Linked DNA regions of Homo sapiens. The protein of the gene in region 2 interacts with the protein of the main gene of each other region in a pairwise test. Each region holds a gene or a part of one and is shown on either strand. Other genes may lie near its edges. The genes, in order: NR1I2 and FGR.

Region 1 (3,811 bases), on a different chromosome or scaffold from region 2:
TTTGTCTGCAAGCCTACATAAAGTCAGGATTATGATTTGAAAAATCAGGGATTTTCCCCTGTGCCTGTTCAGTTCAGGTTTCCAGTCAATGTATTTTATTCACAGTGTAATGGAGGGCCAGGGTCAGAGACAGATTAATTCCTTATTTACTCTTACAGGTGAAACTGTCAGATGTCACCTGTCATGATGTTGGAAACAGAAATTTATGTGTTAGAATTTTACTAAAGTTTCGATTTTGGCATTAGAAAAAGCATCGTCATCTGTGGTGGTGTCTGCCCTTGTCAGTCAGTGCCTAGAGAGAATTTTGGGGATGGTAGTAACAGGACAATCCCCCATTTCTACTGAACATCCTCAGTGTCTGTTCCAAGTAGAATTCAAGTTATGCTCTCAAGGTGGAAGTTGCCTGGGGAGGACATCCTTGAGTACAGCTCAATTTTTTTTCTTTCTTTTAGAGATGAGGTCTCACTTTATCACCCAGGCTAGAGTGCTCTGGCATGATTCTAGCTCACTGCAGCCTCAAACCCTCAGGCTCAAGAGATCCTCCCCGCTCAGCTTCCCAAGTAGCTGGGACTATAGGCTCACACCATCGATCTTGGCTGTTTTTTTTTATTTTTTGTAAAGATGAGATCTCACTTTGTTGCCCAGGCTGGTCTCAGATTCCTGGGCTCAAGCGATCCTCTTGCCTCAGCCTCCCAAAGCCCCGGGATTACAGGCATCAGCCACCATGCTTAGCTACAGCTCTATTAATAGGCACAAGTTCTTCAATATTCACTGAGACCCCAGCTCTGCTGGGACCACAGGCCATTTTTCTTCCCATGTTGTGATCTTGCCCACCATGCCTCCACTTTTTCCCCATCTGCCTGGCTACTTAGTTGAAAACTCTTTCTGCTCAGCCTTTCTAGCTCCCTGTGGGAGCTTGGGCCACACCCCACCTGAAAGACTATCCTCCCTCAATGTCCCCAGTCCCAGAAATCATCTTGAACAAGTAATCTGTCCATGAGCTGCTCCCCATTCAGACCTCTGGCCAGGTTGTGGCCTCCTAACCTCAGTCCACTCAGCTGTGGCCTCCATGATCCGACCCAGACAGCCTGCTCTCTTTTCTTCTCATTTCTTCCTCCCTCTTACCCTTATCTTTCCCATGCTCCTGTTCACATGTTCTACTCCAGGGCTCTATTTTTGTGTACAAAATGTCATGATTACAGCTCTCTTTATAACAATTCCAACCCCCATTCCCCGCTTTTTTTCCCCATGAGAGGTCAGCTCCCGAGTTCACAGGCCCAAATGTGAGTGATGCATAGAAGGGACAGAGTGTTTCCTCTGAGGCCTCTACACATCCCTGTCCAGTCTTTTCATTCTCTGTGGTTTTCTCATTTCTAGTCCAAGAGGCCCAGAAGCAAACCTGGAGGTGAGACCCAAAGAAAGCTGGAACCATGCTGACTTTGTACACTGTGAGGACACAGAGTCTGTTCCTGGAAAGCCCAGTGTCAACGCAGATGAGGAAGTCGGAGGTCCCCAAATCTGCCGTGTATGTGGGGACAAGGCCACTGGCTATCACTTCAATGTCATGACATGTGAAGGATGCAAGGGCTTTTTCAGGTAGAGTTACCCATCAGCCTTCACCCACGTGCCACCACTGACCCACTGGGTAACGTCTCAGGGCCTCAGCTTGACCTGTCCCCCAGGTTCAGAGTGTGGGCTGGTGGCCCACCCAAAGGCCTTGTAATTAGTCTCAAGGGAGCCATTTATATCCCAGAGGAATCCTTCATCTTCAGTCTTCCTGTTCTACCCAGGAAAGGTCTCCTTCCATTAAGATATCCCTTGGTTTCTCCATGTGCTCTTGAATAAAATGGAAAATGACTCAGTGAAAGATAAGGAATTTGAAAATCCCAAATCCAAGTGTTCACATCCGCCTTCTGGGGTGGTTGTTACATAAAGAATGGCATAAAATAAATGCTTAGACCATGGGAAGAGAAACAGACCGAAGGGAGGGGAAGGGCGGGGAGGGGAGAAAGCCATGTGTGAGGAAGCACTCCAGGTGCACCCTCCGGAGGGCACAGGGTATGCAAGGAGCAGCTCCCATCTCGGGAGCCACATGTGGGACCCTCATGCATTCCCAAGACAGCCAGCCTGACAGCCCTTTGCAGAGTTCTTCGTGGTGGCTGGGCATTCAAATGGAAAAGGGCAGGTTCCAGGGAGAAATGAACATTCGTGTTGCATGAGTTATAACAGGGGTGAGACACATCAGCAGTGTCAGACTGGGTTCAGCTACAAGTCACAGGACACTTGTCGCCAATTGGTTTGGCAATAAGGAAAATGTGTTACCTCTCCTAACAGGAAGTCTGAAGGCCTCCAGGTTAGTGAGTTCAGCAGCTCATTTCTTTCCATTTTTCTCTTCAGCCATCCCACCTGAGAGCTCTGATTGCAGTCTGGCTCCCCTTGTGGGGGCACAGTGCTGGGGCCCCAGGCAGGAATCATTATGTTCAGCAGAAGCGCACAAAGGCCCATCTTTGAGAGTAAGGAAATCTTTCCCAGGAGTCCCCTCACATTGGCTAGAGCCGGGCCCAGCCTATGCCTGAACTAGTCACTAGCAAAGAGCAGCAGGTATGTCCCTGAGCTGGGCACACGCCACTTGACTGTGTGGAAGAGGGTGGATGTCTGCACCAGCTCCAGATGCTGCTGGCACAGAAGAGGCTGCCCAAGCAGTGTTCGTGCATCCTGCCTCAGCATGCAGGAATCTTCTGCTCTCCCTTCCTCATTTGGGTACTATTCCTGGGACTCTCAGAAAAAGGCAACATGTTGTAGTGGGCAAAAGCTAAATCCAGTATCAGGCAGACCTGGATTCAAATTTCAGCTTGTCATGTACCTGGAGGACAGCTGGGGATCCATCGTCTCCAAGCCTCAGTCTCCCTCATCTGTGCTAGGCAGATGAGATTATGAGTTTCACAGGGTTTTAGAACTAAATTTACAAAACTGCAAAATACCTAGCCTAGCATCTGATACATAGCATACCTTTAAATAATGTGAGCCCCGGTTTCATCTTTTACCCATTCTCAGTGGACTTTGATGTAGCATCAGAGTTTTCTTACCCAGGCCAGTTGGGAAGGCAAAAGGCAGGGATGGCATCTGTGAAGAACATGCCCCTGGGCTGGTCACTGGTCCGAGGCCCGAGGCCTCCAAGCTCAAACCTGCCAGGTCACTGCGGGCTTGGCTCAGCTTCCCAGGCCTGCCCTCGGGGACCTCTGCAGCCCTACCTGGCTGTTCCATGCTCCTGGGCCAGCCTTCCCTCAGTTTCCACTCTGGACCAGAATCAGAGGCCAGAGCCAAGGGAGAGATTGTTTCTTTCCATCCAGCTGTGGAGATGGGGAAAGTAAAGGTAGGACTGCACTGACCGTGTCTTTTGTGGGACAGGCAGGACTTCCGGGCTGGGAGGAGGAGATCTTGTACCAGAGTCTCCAAAAGGCATCTGCCCCATTGCCTCTCTGCGCACCGCAGAGAGGGGTGTGCGGGCCCGTGGGTCCCGCCTGCACGCTCTGCTGTTCCAGGCGCTCGACCTCTTTGCCCCCTAGGTCAACGAGGGGAATCCACTCTGCCATGGGGAAGTCGCTGCCCCGTAGGGTATAAGAACTTCCCCATAGTTCACCCCTTCCTCCCTGGCCGCCCAGTCTGGAAGGGGAGCTGGAGAAGGCGGCGGGGGGTGGGGGGAAGGCGGGGGGGAAGGCGGGGGGGTGGGGCGGGCTTCTCTGGTTTCTTACCCTCCTGGGGTCAGGTTTCCTCAGCTCCCTCCCTTAAGGAGGGGAAATCGAGGAAGAGG
Region 2 (3,811 bases):
AATGCGGATGCCCCCACACTGTCCCCCCACCCCCCATGTAGGGATACACACACACACACACACACACACACACACACACACACACAGATATACACAGCCCTCTCCGGTGACATGGACCCACATAGAGCTCTCCTCTATAGGAGAACATAGACTTATACAATCTCTCATGTTCACACACAGATACAATATTGCCACTTCCAATAATACCCACGTATATATTGCCACAACATATCTATATCAGATGGAGGGGATCCCTGAATTCTGCATGCCCAGTATGGCTGGAAGGGAGAGACTATCAGCATCTGAGAAGGAAGCTCTGTGGGCTCAGGAAGAGCCCTGGCAGGACTGACCGTGTCGTCAGCAGGCAGAGGTAGGCAGCTCTTGGGTCTTATCACTTCCAAACTTGATGCAGACCAAAGCCCTGGCCAGGCCTGGCTCTCTGGGGACCAGTATGCTGAGGCGTCAGGGGATGTAGGGCACAGGGTATGACATCTGCATGGCCCAAGGCAGGGAGGGGCCACACTGCATGTAGCCATGTTCATGCTGTTTTGTCAGAGGAAAGAAAGAGATGGGGAAAGACAGAAAAAGGAGAGGCAGAAAGAAAGAGAGAGAGAGGCAGAGTTTGAGAGATACAGGGAGATAAAGAGAAAGAGCCAGAGAGACAGAAAGACAGAGAGATAGAAGGAAGAGACAGAGACAGAGAAACACAGCGTGGTATGCTGGTAAACTGACTCTCAAAAAAAGAAAAGAAAAGAAAAGAAAAAGCCCTGATTTGTCACATTTTCTGATTTCCATGGTGTAAATATTCCCACAATGGCTGATTTAAAGCTACCAAAGTGACTTCCTGAAAGCTGGGGTGGAAGAGACACACAGAATGAACTCCCCTGAGCCAGTAAGTAGCTGGCTCCAGCACACACTGCCAGAAAGAAACAGAGACAAAGAGACAGAGGCAGAAATGAGAATTAAGGAGAAAGAGTAATCAAGAGACAGAAAGAGATAGAAACAGAGAGAGGCAGAGATGAAGAGAAAGAGAGAGAGAGAGCTAAAGAGACAAGGAGGGAAAAAGACGGAGGGAGAGCAGATTGGGTTCACTCTGCTCAGACATCTGCATGAAAATAGCCCTAGGACTCTTCATCCTCCTCTTGCTCTGATCTCTATGTGCCACCAATTCTTTGGAGAGTAATTTGACTTCCTAGAAATCCAGGTGGCAGTAAAAATGAGCTAATTTATTAAACAGTTACACAGTGACTAGCATCTTGCCAAGTAACTCCCAGTCATGGTCTTATTTGGTGAACCTATGAGGTGGGTTTATGACTACCCTTATTTTACAGATGAAGAAACTGAGGCACAGAGATGTTAAGTAACTTGCCCAAGATTACATTGTGAGTAAAGGATGCTAAAATGCAATGCTGATCAACTTGTTGCCAAAAACCACTGTAACCACTAGTCCATTCTGTAATCCTAGTAGAAGCAATAATGCAAGCTTGTCCATCCCATGGTCCATGGGCCATATGCAGCCCAGGACAGCTTTGAATGTGGCCCAACACATATTAGTAAACTTTCTGAAAACATTATGAGATTTTTTTTGTGATTTTTTTTGAGACGGGGTCTCACTCTGTTGCCCAGGCTGGAGTAAAGTGGCACAATCTTGGCTCACTGCAACCTCCGCCTCCTGGGTTCAAGTGATTCTTCTGCCTCAGCCTCCTGAGTAGCTGGGACTACAGGCGCGCTGCCAACACGCCTGGCTAATTTTTTGTATTTTGAGTAGAGACGGGGTTTCACCGTGTTAGCCCGGATGGTCTCGATCTCCTGACCTCGTGATCTGCCCGCCTCGGCCTCCCAAAGTGCTGGGATTACAGGCATGAGCCACTGCACCCGGCCTTTTTTGCAATTTTTTAAAGCTCATCAGCTATCATTAGTGTTAGTGTATTTTATGTGTGGCTCAAGACAATTTTTCTTCTTCCAATGCGGCCCAGGGAAGCCAAAAGATTGGACACCCCTGCAATAACGTGTGTCTCTTAAGGAGCACCTAGTGTTCTCAGCCCTGTGCCTCATGCTCTAAATCCTTGATACAGCAGGCAGGGCGCAGGTGGGGGGAGGGAGGGGCGCAGGAGAGAGAGAGAGAGAGCCATATCTGCCCAGATTTTCTCAGGCAGTCGCTGAATCTGAAGAAGCCAGGTCTCTCTTTTCTCAGCACTGAACTTCGCTGCCTGCTAATACCAGAAAGGGGGCAGCTCAGAGAGTAGCCACAGCATCATTCTGGGCACTTGGTTCTGTTTATAAATATGTCTCTTGAACATCTGGTTTACAGGAGTCGCCTCCGAGATCCCCATCAGGGTCAAAATCAGGTTACAAGTATCAAACTGAGGTCCAACCCTGGACCGCAGTGCTCCTCACTTCAACATCTGCCCTGTGGCCCTCCCCAGCTCCATTCTTCAGTAGCTCTATGACCTTGGATCTTTGACATAAGCCTCTGAGCCTTAGTTGTTGCATCTGCACCTTCTGAGTAGTTGTTGTGAGGGCTTCATGACATGTGGCTCTTGCCCGATGTGCAGTGGCCAAGTGTGACCAATAACCAAAACCAGAATGGCCCCCAGGGACCATTTACCACTCCACCTTCTCTTTTGCATAGGGGGAAGTTACTTTCCCAGGATCACACAGCCAGACAAGGGATTCAAAGTCAGGACTATTAATTCAAGTCCAGAGTTCTGTTCCCTCCCCCACTGCTGTGTTCTCCAAAGCCTGAGCAGGAGATCATGCTGTTCCTAACTAGTGAATGTCATACTTCCGGTCGAACACACCACCCCTGTCATATGGCAGCTGGTCACCCAGCAGGGAGGGACCCTGCCTCCCACTCACCCCTACTGCTGGACATAGGAACCCCAGGTCCACCCATCCTTTTTCGAGGCCCACACTTCCCAAAGCTATGCCAGTTCTTTGATGTAGACACAGGATGTCCTGCCCCCGCAACCCTCACCAAGTATCTGTGGGATCTAGAGGCAGATTTAGGCTCAAATTCTAGCCTGCCTGACAACTAGCTTAAGGCATTGGGCAAGTCAGTTCATCTCCCTGAGCGGCAGCATCTTTGCCTATAAAATAAGAATACAAATGTCCACCTCCTGGGGTTGCTTCTCAGCATCAAATGGGGTCACATCACTGAAAGCATCAGACATACAGTAAGTGCCCAGTGAACTTTCACTTCCCTCCTTTCCCTTGAGGAAGGTCCTCCGTGGCAGTGACGGTGTGGGACCAGAGGGTACAGAACTGGGCAGGGCTGAGAAGAAAGAGAAGTTCCCAGGGTGAGGTGAGAGGGCTGAGCTGGCCCAGCCGCCTGGGGGATTTCATCAAAAGGGAACCGGGACTTTGGGCAGGGGCAGGAAACCACCATCCTGCAAGAGTTCCGGCTTCTCCTCCAGGCTCTGGGCTGGCCGGGGGCAGGCCAGGGCTGGAGGGTCAGGGAGCAAGGCTGAGGTCTGCAGGTGACTCCCATCCCACTGTGCCGCATCTCTCACTAGGCCCTATCCCTCAGACCGGGCGGGCTTCCATCCCTCACCCTCAGTCCTCTCACCGAGACCCTCCACCTGGCTGAATGCCAGTGCCTTTGCTGAGGCCCCCACTGCTCATTAACTCCCTTTCTTTCTTTCTTTGTTCTTCTTCTTCTTCTTCTTCTTTTTTTTTTTTTTGAAACAGTGTCTCATTCTGTCGCCAAGGCTGGAATGCGATGGTTCGATCTCGGCTCACTGCAACCTCTGCCTCCCGGGTTCAAGCAATTCTCCTGCCTCAGCCTCCTGAGTAGCTGGGATTACAGGCG

The links.
Region 1: the proteins of FGR (region 2) and NR1I2 interact in a two-hybrid assay, tested with the Homo sapiens proteins (one large-scale study listed by BioGRID and IntAct).

What each region holds. Positions count from the first base shown.
Region 1 is NC_000003.12:119,805,852-119,809,662, forward strand, and holds part of NR1I2 (nuclear receptor subfamily 1 group I member 2), read left to right. Parts: intron 1-1,377; coding exon of another isoform or gene 1,378-1,399; coding exon 1,400-1,596; intron 1,597-3,811. UniProt on the Homo sapiens protein: Nuclear receptor that binds and is activated by variety of endogenous and xenobiotic compounds.
Region 2 is NC_000001.11:27,628,472-27,632,282, forward strand, and holds part of FGR (tyrosine-protein kinase Fgr), read right to left. Parts: intron 1-3,811. UniProt on the Homo sapiens protein: Non-receptor tyrosine-protein kinase that transmits signals from cell surface receptors devoid of kinase activity and contributes to the regulation of immune responses, including neutrophil, monocyte, macrophage and mast cell functions, cytoskeleton remodeling in response to extracellular stimuli, phagocytosis, cell adhesion and migration.